Regions from separate parts of the Homo sapiens genome. Here region 1 is linked to region 2. The links come from fine-mapping of genetic effects on gene expression. A gene starts in region 2. The other region holds a variant in brackets. All regions are shown on one strand. Distances are from middle to middle. Region 1 overlaps THOC5 (THO complex subunit 5). Region 2 holds the start of NIPSNAP1 (nipsnap homolog 1).

What was found. PIP is the estimated chance that this variant, and not a neighbour inherited with it, causes the effect.
Region 1: its variant is the best candidate, but not a certain one, in a credible set for the expression of NIPSNAP1 in whole blood (INTERVAL, PIP 0.51).

Annotation. Positions count from the first base shown.
Region 1 is chr22:29,542,315-29,547,687 of GRCh38, forward strand. It overlaps THOC5 (THO complex subunit 5), which reads right to left. Exons shown (of 20, transcript NM_003678.5): 3 at 2,146-2,289; 4 at 1,115-1,228; 5 at 545-642. Among named protein-coding and RNA genes, the nearest start is that of THOC5, 8.8 kb to the right of the region's middle. The variant G/A (reference allele first, on the strand shown) is at 2,690.
Region 2 is chr22:29,578,031-29,583,380 of GRCh38, forward strand. It overlaps NIPSNAP1 (nipsnap homolog 1), which reads right to left and starts at 3,083. Exons shown (of 10, transcript NM_003634.4): 1 at 2,955-3,083. The coding sequence starts at 3,052. RefSeq lists an enhancer at 2,244-2,856 and a silencer at 2,840-2,889.

The DNA of each region.
Region 1 (5,373 bases), 36 kb before region 2:
CCAAGTGCAGAGCTCAAAACTCAAAAAGGTCAGAGAGACTTCTGAGGTTCTTTATGCAGCCTGAAATCACGGCTTGCAATTCTCCCACATTCACCCTTGCAATTTGCCCTTCTCCCAGATCCTACAGTTTTCTAAGCTCATCAGATTTCTTTTTAAAGAGAGACTTAGGCTGGGAGCGGTGGCTCACGCCTGTAATCCCAGCACTTTGGGAGGCCGAGGCGGGAGGACCACCTGAGGTCAGGAGTTCGAGAACAGCCTGGCCAACATGGCAAAACCCCGTCTCTACTAAAAATACAAAAATTAGCTGGATGTGGAGGTGGGCGCCTGCAATCCCAGCTACTCAGAAGGCTGAGGCAGGAGAATTGCTTGAACCCGGGAGGTGGAGGTTGCAGTGAGCTGAGATTGCGCCACTGCACTCCAGCCTGGGTGACAGGGCAAGACTCCGTCTCAAAAAAAAAAAAGAAACAGACTTACAGTGAGCTACATGGGAAAAAGCAGTTACCGAAAGACCACATGTGCCAAAGCCCTGTCCTCCCAAACTCACTTAAACTCCAAACATTTGGTGATCTCCTTCTGTAGGTGCATCACCTCATACAACAGGTTCTGGAGCTGCAGATGATAGGCATCTACTTTCTGCTTAGCCTGAAAGGAAAATACGATCAGAAGTGAGCAGGGCAAGTCAGGATGGAGCAGAGGAGAGGGTCAGCAAACTAAGAGAAGGTGTAAAGGGAATAAAGAAGGGGATGGGGCTGGGTGCAGTGGCTCACGCCTGTAATCCCAGCACTTTGGGAGGCCGAGGCGAGTGGATCACCTGAGCTCAGGAGTTCAAGACAAGCCTGGCCAACAAGGTGAAACCCCATCTCTACTAAAAAATACAAAAATTAGCCAGGCATGGTGGTGGGAGGTGCCTGTAATCCCAGCTACTTAGGAGGCTGAGGCAGGAGAATCGCTTGAAGCTGGGAGGCAGAGGATGTGGTGAGCTGAGATCGTGCCACTGCACTCTAGCCTGGGGGACAGAACGAGACTCTGTCTCAAAAAAAAAAAAAAAAAAAAAAAAAGAAGGGGATGGGGAGGAGGAAGGAGGAAGGTTAAAATTAAACCTTTTAACTACTACCTCGTGGGTCTGATCTCTTCCTTTCTTCAACCTGATGTGGGCTAATCGGTTAAGCTTCTTTAGAGTCATGAAATGCACACAGCTCTGGATCCTCCGTTCTTCTATTTCTATTGCCTGTGGGCAAAGAAAACAGTAAAGCCCACTGACGACAGGGCTAGCTCAGCTTCCTTCAGTCCTTCACCACTGACCCATCCTCATCTGGGGCCAAAAACGGCACCGGAGGGAGCTCAGAACCATGAGAAGGGTCATGAAGAAAATAAGAGGATGATTGTATAAGGAAAATGATTAAGAATCTCGGGCAAAAAAAAGTAATTTCTGCTTGGACTAGAGTAACAGGAATTGAAGATGGAATAAGGGCAGCAAAGGCACAATCTATCTCTACAGATCCTACACAGAGATCCCAGCAATAGTAACATCTTGTCATAAAATTTGACCTCTATAAATAACATTACAGGATAACTTAAATGGAAAATAACAGAATTATAGCCATAAAGCTTGGCTAGAATAGATTGAATGCAATAATTCTAACAAAACTTGTCAGCATAAGCACAAATACGTGAGATTCCTGGGGGAAAAAATGGATTTTAAAAAACTTATCTATCGAGTTTTTAGTCACATTGTTTAATTTCTCTGCCCCTAAAACCTCATTTATTCATTTACTATTAATGATAATTTCATTTTTGGTATCTACAATTTACTTGTACACATCCATCTTTGTATCAAGCAAATGTATAAGTACCATCATTTCTCAACACCTAGCAAAATGCCTGGCACTTAATAAATATTAATTGGATGAATGATCAAATTAGTAGGGAAAAAATTAATTATCCTGTACTTTCATTCCTGTAATTGGTGACTGAATGGTGATAAGAAGTTCCAATAAATTCACAGGTTTTGGGAGCCCTCAGGCTCCAATCACCTGATCATGGCTAGGACAGAAGATCAAGATCAGGAAGGGCCCTGGTAGGTGCAAAAACAGCCTCATCTATGTAAACCCACCAGGTTCACGGCCACCTGGTCCCACTCCTTACCACATCCTTGCCACCCCTGCTCTTCAGGTCTTGGATCTCAGCCATCAGCCTCTGTAGCTCCTGGCAGGTGTACTTGTATAACTCATAGTCTCTGCCAGGGTCCCGCAGATCCACCTCGGCCTCCTCACTGTAGTATTTACCTTCCTGTAGAGGTAAGGATAAAGGCTCTGTGTGCATGGGGTAAAAGTCTCCCTGCTGGGATCAGGGACACTTGGCTGACATCTCCTTTTAGATAAAAACAGTAACAATGAAGCCTCAGTCAGGTCTCTAAAAGATCTGGTCCTTAAATTAAATGCTTTTCTTCTCTTCAAAATAGAAACCTCTTTTGCTTTCTGATTGCAGAGTAATGCATGCCTGGTATCAAAGATTCAGAATATACAGAGGAGTATCAAAAAGAAAATGGAAAAATTGCCTATAATTTCGCCTCTCAGTCCGAAACTGAGTGAAGATTGTGGATAAATAAACATTTTATTTGTAAACAAAACGGGATCATACTGTCCGTGCTGTTAAGTGCAACTTCCCATCTGCATTAGTCCATTTTCAC[G/A]CTGCCAATAAAGACACACCTGAAACTGGGAACAAAAAGAGGTTTAATTGGACTTACAGTCCCACATAGCTGGGGAGGCCTCAGAATCATGGCGAGAGGTGAAAGGCACTTCTTATGTGGCGGCGGCAAGAGAAAAATGAGGAGGAAGCAAAAGCAGAAACCCCTTATAAACCCATCAGATGTCGTGAGACTTATTCACTATCATGAGAATAGCACGGGAAAGACTGGCCCCCATGATGCAATTACCTCCCTCTGGGTCCCTCCCACAACATGTGGCAATTCTGGGAAATACAATTCAAGTTGAGATTTAAATCCCAAACCATATCATTCCGCCCCTGGCCCCTCCGAATCTCATGTCCTCACATTTCAAAACCAATCATGCCTTCCCAACAGTCGCCCAAAGTCTTAACTCATTTCAGCATTAACCCAAAAGTCCATAGTCCAAAATCTCATCTGAGACAAGGCAAGCCCCTTCCGCCTATGAGCCTGTAAAATCAAAAGCAAGCTAGTTACTTCGTAGATACAGTGGGGGTAAATATAGCCATTCCAAATGGGAGAAATTGGCCAAAACAAAGGCGTTACAGGGCCCATGCAAGACCAAAATCCAGTAGGGCAGTGAAATTTTAAAGCTCCAAAATTATCTCCTTTGACTCCAGGTCTCACATCCAGGTCAAGCTGATGCAAAAGGTGGCTTCCCATGGTCTTGGGCAGCTCCACCCCTGTGGCTTTGCAGGGTACAGTCTCCCTCCCTCCTGGCTGCTTTCATGGGCTGGCATTGAGTGTCTGCAGCTTTTTCAGGTGCATGGTGCAAGCCGTTCGTGGATCTACCATTCTAGGGTCTGAAGGGACGGTGGCCCTCTTCTCACAGCTCTACTAGGCAGTGCCTCAGTAGGGACTGTGTGGGGGCTCTGACCCCACATTTCCCTTCCACACTGCCCTAGCAGGGGTTCTCCATGAGCGCGCCAGCAGCAAACTTTTGCCTGGGCATCCAGGTGTTTCCGTACATCTTCTGAAATCCAGGCGGAGGTTCCCAAACCTCAATTCTTGACTTCTGTGCACCCACAGGCTTAACACCACTTGGAAGCTGCCAAAGCTTGGGGCTTCCACCCTCTGAGCCACAGGCCAAGCTCTAGATTGGCCCCTTTCAGCCATGCCTGGACTGGCTGGGACACAGGGCACCAAGTCCCTAGGCTGCATATAGCACAGGGACCCTGGGCCTGGCCCAGAAAACCACTTTTTCCTCCTGGGCCTCTGGGCCTGTGAGGGAAGGGGCTGCCGTGAGGTCTCTGACATGGCCTGGAGACGCTTTCCCCATGGTGTTAATCCCCCACGGGGATTAACATTAGGCTCCTTGCTACTTATGCAAATTTCTGCAACCAACTTGAATTTCTCCGCAAAAAATGGGTTTTTCTTTCCTTTTTTTATTTTTTATTTTTATTTTTTGAGACAGAGTCTCGGTCTTGTCGCCCAGGCTGGAGTGCAGTGGCATGATCTCAGTTCACTGCAACCTCTGCCTCCCAGGTTCAGGCAATTCTCCTGCCTCAGGCTTGGAGATTACAGTGGGTAGCTGGGATTACAGGCACCTGCCACCAGGCCCGGCTAATTTCTGTATTTTTAGTAGAGATGGGGTTTCACCATGTTGCCCAGGCTGGTCTCGAACTTCTGACCTCAAGTGATCCACCCAGCTCGGCCTCCCAAAGTGCTGGGATTACAAGCGTGAGCCACCGTGCCCAGCCGGGTTTTTCTTTTCTACTGTGTCATCAGGCTACAAATTTTCCAAACTTTTATGCTCTGTTTTCCTTTTAAAATGGAATGCTTTTAACAGTACCCAAGTCACTTCTTTTTTTTTTTTTTGAGACAAGGTCTTGCTCTTGTTGCTCAGGCTGGAGTGCAATGGCGCAATCTCAGCTCACTGCAACTTCTGCCTCCCGGGTTCAAGCGATTCTCCTGCCTCAGCCTCCCAAGTAGCTGGGATTACAGGGGCCCACCACCATGTCTGGCTAATTTTTATTGTATTTTTAGTAGAGATAGGGTTTTGCCATGTTGGCCAGGCTGGTCTCAAACTCCTGACCTCAAGTGGTTCACCTGCCTCGGCCTCCCAAAGTGCTAGGATTATAGGCGTGAGCCACTGCACATGGCCCTGTCACCTTTTGAATGGTTTGCTACTTAGAAATTTCCTCCACCAGATACCCTAAATCCTCTCTCTCAAGTTCAAAGTTCCACAAATCTCTAAGGCAGGGGCAAATGTTTTCAGTCTCTTTGCTAAAACACAAGAGTCACCTTTGCTGCAGTTTCCAATAAGTTCCTCATCTCCATCTGAGACCACCTCAGGCTGGACCTTATTGTTCATATCATTATCAACTTTTTTTTTTTTCTTTGAGATGGAGTCTCACTCTGTCACCCAGGCTGGAGTGCAGTGGCATGATCTTGGCTCACTGCAACCTCTGCCTCCTGGGTTCAAGCAATTCTCTGCCTCAGCCTCCCGAGTAGCTGGGATTACAGGCTACCGCCACCACGCCTGGCTAATTTGTTCGTATGTTTAGTAGAGACAGGGTTTCACCATCTTAGCCAGGCTGGTCTTTAACTCCTGACCTCGTGATCCACCTGCCTCAGACTCCCAAAGTGCTGGGATTACAGGCGTGAGCCACCATGTCCGGCCCATTATCAGCATTTTTGTCAAAGCC
Region 2 (5,350 bases):
TGGGATTACAGGCGCACACACCATGCCCAGCTAATTTTTGTATTTTTAATAAAGACGGGGTTTCACCATGTTGGCCAGGCTGGTCTTGAATACCTGACCTCATGATCCGCCTGCCTGGGCCTCCCAAAGTGCTAGGATTACAGGTGGGAGTCACCAGGCCTGGCCTGGCTAATTTTTGTGTTTTTAGTAGAGATGGGGTTTCACCATGTTGGCCAAGCTGGTCTTGAACTCCTGGCCTCAGGTGATCCACCCGCCTCAGCCTCCTAAAGTGCTGGGATTACAGGCATGACCCACTGTGCCTGGCCAAATTTTTGTATTTTTTATAGAGACAGGATCTCGCCATGTTGCCCAGGCTGGTCTCAAACTCCTGGGTTCAAGCAATCCTCCCACCTTGGCCTACCGAAGTGTTGGGATTACAGGCGTGAGCAATGGTGCCTGGCCCAGGTCCATCTGATTTCAAAGCCCACACTCCATCCCCACCCCAGCAGCCTCATTGCCCCCAAACCTCACAGGCCAGAAGGGCTGCTGCTGGCCCTACTAGTGACTCTGGAGAGATATGGGGCAGCCTGAGGGGCAGCAGGACAGAGTGTTCTCAGGTATCCAATGTGGAATTAAGGTATAAGTAACTGCAAGACAGTCCTTGAGGGACTTGATAAACATTAATTCAAGTGGCTTCATAGCAATCCTGCCGAAAACACCAACATCCCCACTTTACAGAAAAGGAAACTGAGGCTGACGGAGGTTCAGCAACTCATCCAGGGTCACTGAGTGAGGGGCAGCAGGCTGACTCTGAGACCCATGCTCCTTTTACAGCCTCTGGGTGTTTGCCACACAAATGGTTTTACCACCAATCCATTCTGTCCCTTCCCCAATCTTGATATTTTTATCTGGAAAACAAAGGGCTCATAAAAGATGATCTTCCCAGAGCCCTTTGAGCCTCAACATTATGTGGGTCACATGCAGAAATTGCTTGAAACATAGGCTAGGGGTTAAGGAGCAACACTTACTGCATGTTCGTCAAGTGCTAGACACTTCACAACCACGGAATCTTTTTTTTTTGTAGACGGAGTCTCGCTCTGTCACCCGGGTTGGAGTGCAGTAGCGTGATCTCGGCTCACTGCAACCTCTGTCTCCCGGGTTCAATTGATTCTCCTGCCTCAGCTTCCTAGTAGCTGGGATTACAGGGGTGAGCCATCACACCCAGCTAATTGTATTTTTAGTAGAGACACGTTTTCACCAACATGGTGAAATTTTTGTACTTTTTTTTTTTTTTTTTTTTTTTTGAGACAGAGTCTCACTCTTGTCGCCCAGGCTGGAGTGCAGTGGCAGGATCTCGGCTCACTGCAAGCTCCGCCTCCTGGGTTCACGCCATTCTCCTGCCTCAGCCTCCTGAGTAGCTGGGACTACAGGCGCCTGCCACCGCGCCCAGCTAATTTTTTGTATTTTTAGTAGAGATGGGGTTTCACCGTGTTAGCCAGGATGGTCTCGATCTCCTGACCTCGTGATCCACCGCCTCGGCCTCCCAAAGTGCTGGGATTACAGGCGTGAGCCACCGCGCCCGGCCATTTTTGTACTTTTTATAGAGACAGGATCTCGCCGTGTTGCCAAGCTGGTCTTGAACTGCTGACCTCAAGTGATCTGCCTGCCTCGGCCTCCCAAAGTGCTGGGATTACAGGCATGAGCCACCATACCCGACCAACCACAGCATCTTTAATCCTCAACAACCCTATGAGATACATCCTGATTACTCCCATTTTACAGATGAGGAACCCGAGGCTTAAAGAGTCCTGAGGTCACCCCACCTACAAAGTCTGAGTTAGATCTGTTAGTGCCAGGCAAACTCTAGGCTTTTCCCACGGTGTCAGCTTTATCCCTAATTATTGGGCAGTCTAGGTGGGGCGCTTATGCCACTCCTCTTTCCCAGCTGTCCAAAAGCCCCACTGCTCTGTGCTGTAACATCTCATGGCAGGCACTATCAGAACTTTGCAGCTTCATTCCTGGGCTGCAGGGCAGGAGGGATGGTTGCTTCCTTTTCACAGGTTGGGGGAGGGGGAACAGGTGGCCTCACTTCTTTGGTAAATATTCCTTGACCATACACAGTCCTGAGCCCTCTGAGGGTGGGAGGCTGGGGAAACAGAGAAAAATGAGATCATGGTCTAGTGAGAGAGACAGACAAGCACCAAGTCATAACTGTGCAGGGTCATATATGCAGAGATGGGGGAAGTACAGGGCTGTGGGGACCAAGGAGTGAGGGGCTGCCCAGGGCCAGTCAGGGAGGCCAAGCCCTAGCTCAGCCCAGAGCAGGGCCCAAACAAAAGCCCAGGCTGAGAGCACATGGCCCAGCCAGACTCCCACTCCCAGGAGGCCACCAGTTGGGTGCAAAGTGCATGGCGCATTGGCAGGCCTGGGTCCCAGACCTGGTGCTGCCACGGCACAGCAGGGAGGGTGACCTTGGACAACTCCCATTCCCTCTCAGGTCCGTTTCCCCACCTGTACAGTTCGAGGTGGAGGAACAAAGGGTCTGTGCAGCCATGGCCCCTGGGGATCCCCCACTGCTCCCCTGCCATCATCTCTTTCCCACAGAACTTCCCGACGGAGGAGCTGACTACCAGAAGCCCCCAGTGGGTGTTAAATCACAAGCTACGCCTGGGAATGGGCCACTCCTCCTGTCTTCTGCCCTCTCCCACTCTCCAGGGCCCAGTACCTGCCCTTCTCACCATCTTTCATCAGGTCCCCATCACAGCCCGGTCCCAACCAGGACAAAGACCCTACCCATCCCTTTCTCACCTCCCCCATTCTTTGCCCAGACCCCTCCCTAGGCCTTGATCCTGCCCCGCCTCTAACCCCCAGATTCCAAGCGAGGAGTCTCAGCCCCTCCCCCACGACCCAGTCCCTGGCCCCCGCGCCTGCACCCCACCCCGCGCGCGTCTATCCCTGCCTGGCCGGGCTCTCACCGCGCCGCAGCTGCAGACGCAACGTCCCCAGCGCGAGGCCCCGGGCCCCCCAGCAGCCGCCGCGCCGTCACAGAGATGCTGCACAGCCGCGGAGCCATGTTGGAGCCGCAAAGGTTGCAGGAAGGCCCCGCCCCCAAGCCCTGGTGGCGGAGGCGGGGCGCGAATAAACTCCACCCCTCCGGCTCGCCCGCCCCCTCACTCACCCGGTCAGGTGGGCGTTTCCTGTGGGCGTCTCCAACTCCGCAGGTGCTGGACGGAAGTCAGGGTTCTAATCCTCTGCGCGCTCTGCGACCTTGGCAAGCCCTTTGCCCACTCTGGGCCTCAGGATCCACCTCGGTAAAATGGGAGCGTGGAACAATAATACCAAGGGTTCTTTTTTTTTTTTTTTTTTTTTTTGAGACGGAGTCTCGCTCTGTCGCCCAGGCTGGAGCGCAGTGGCGCGATCTCGGCCCACTGCAAGCTCCGCCTCCTGGGTTCACGCCATTCTCCTGCCTCAGCCTCCCGAGTAGCTGGAACTACAGGCGTCTGCCACCACGCCCAGCTAATTTTTTGTATTTTTAGTAGAAACGGGGTTTCACCGTGTTAGCCAGGATGGTCTCGATCTCCTGACCTCGTGATCTGCCTGCCTCGTGCTCCCAAAGTGCTGGGATTACAGGCGTGAGCCACCATGCCCAGCCTACCAAGGGTTCTTAACAAGGCTGTCCGGGATGTGCAGCAGAGGGTCAGTGTAACCACCCCATGGGTTCATTTTGCCCGTTTCCCAGACAGCGGATTTATCAAGACAGAGGAATTGCAATAAGAGTTTAATTCATGCAGAGCCGGCTGAATGGGAGACCGGAGTTTTATTATTACTCAAATCAGTCTCCCTGAAAATTCGGAGACTGGGTTTTATTAAGGATAATTTGGTGGGTAGGGGCCAGAGAGTGGAGAGTGCTGATTGGTCAGGTCGGAGATGCAATCATAGGGAGTGGAAGCCGTCCTCTTGTGCTGAGTGGATCTCTGGGTGGGGGCCACAAAACCGGATGATCCGGTTTCTTAATCTGTGTATCGCCAGCGGATCCATTGAGTGCAGGATCGGAAAAATATCTTGAGCACCAATCTTAGGTTTTACAGTAGTGATGTTATCCCTAGGAGCAACTGGGGAGGTTTAGAATCTGTGGCCACTACCTGCATGACTCCTAAACCGTAATTTCTAATCTCGTGGCTAATTTGTTAGTCTTACAAAAGCAGTCTGGTCCCCAGGCAAGAAAGGGGTTTATTTTGGGAGAGGGCTGTTATCTTTGTTTCAAAGTTGAACTATAAATTTGCTGCCGGGCATGGTGGCTCATGCCTGTAATCCCAGCATTTTGGGAGGCAAAGGTGGATCAGAAGTTTAGGTCAAGAGTTCAAGACCAGCCTGGCCAACAGGGTGAAACCCCGTCTCTACTAAAAATACAAAAAAATTAGCCAGGCATGGTGGCGGGCACCTGTAATCCCAGTTACTCGGGAGGCTGAGGCAGGAGAATCTCTTGAACCCTGGAGGCAGAGGTTGCAGTGAGCCGAGATCGCGCCACTGCACTCCAGCCTGGGCAACAAGAGCGAAACTCCGTCTCAAAAAACAAACAAAAAGACTGTAAGTTTGGCCTATGCCCAGGAATGAATATGGACAGTTTGGGGGTTAGAAGCAAAATGGAGTCGGTTAGGTCAGATCACTTTCACTGTCATAATTTTCTCACTGTTAAAATTTCTGCAAAGGGGTTGCATCAGTAAGCCCCCTGAAATTGTATACAACGTTACGTGCTCCTCTGTGGTGCATTCTCTGGGGAAAGGCATTCACATGCCAGGTTTATCACCATCAAAGAAACAAACTTCCTTACAAGTGAAGACAGGGGCAAGGCTGTCAGCTGCAGACACTTTATCTCCACCATCTCCTTTCCCCTTTTCATCCCCCTTTGACTTCTCTGCCTGAAAATCCTGGGGCCTCTTTCTGCCCTGCCCAGCTCTTTTGCCCGCCCTCTAAACTAATCCCTTCTCAGCCCACAATCCCCCAGATCACAGACATTGGCAGGGGTGGAGAGCCTGCAGACCCCACAGGGGGCAGGGGCTCTATCCACTTCCAAAGGGGCAGGGACAGCTCCCCAAAAGAATGTCCACCCACTGACTAGTGGTTGCCTCCTGTTATGCTTGGCATGGGGGGAGTGGAGGCCAGGCCATGATTGCACCACTGCGCTCCAGCCTGGGCAACAGAGCAAGACCCAGTCTCTATAAAAAAATAATAATAATTTTAAGATTAGGACCACGTGTGGTGGCTCATGCCTGTAATCCCAGCACTTTGGGAGGCCAAGGCAGGAGGATCTATGAAAATTCAAAAAATTAGCTGAGCATGGTAGCACACACCTGTAGTCCCAGCTACTCAG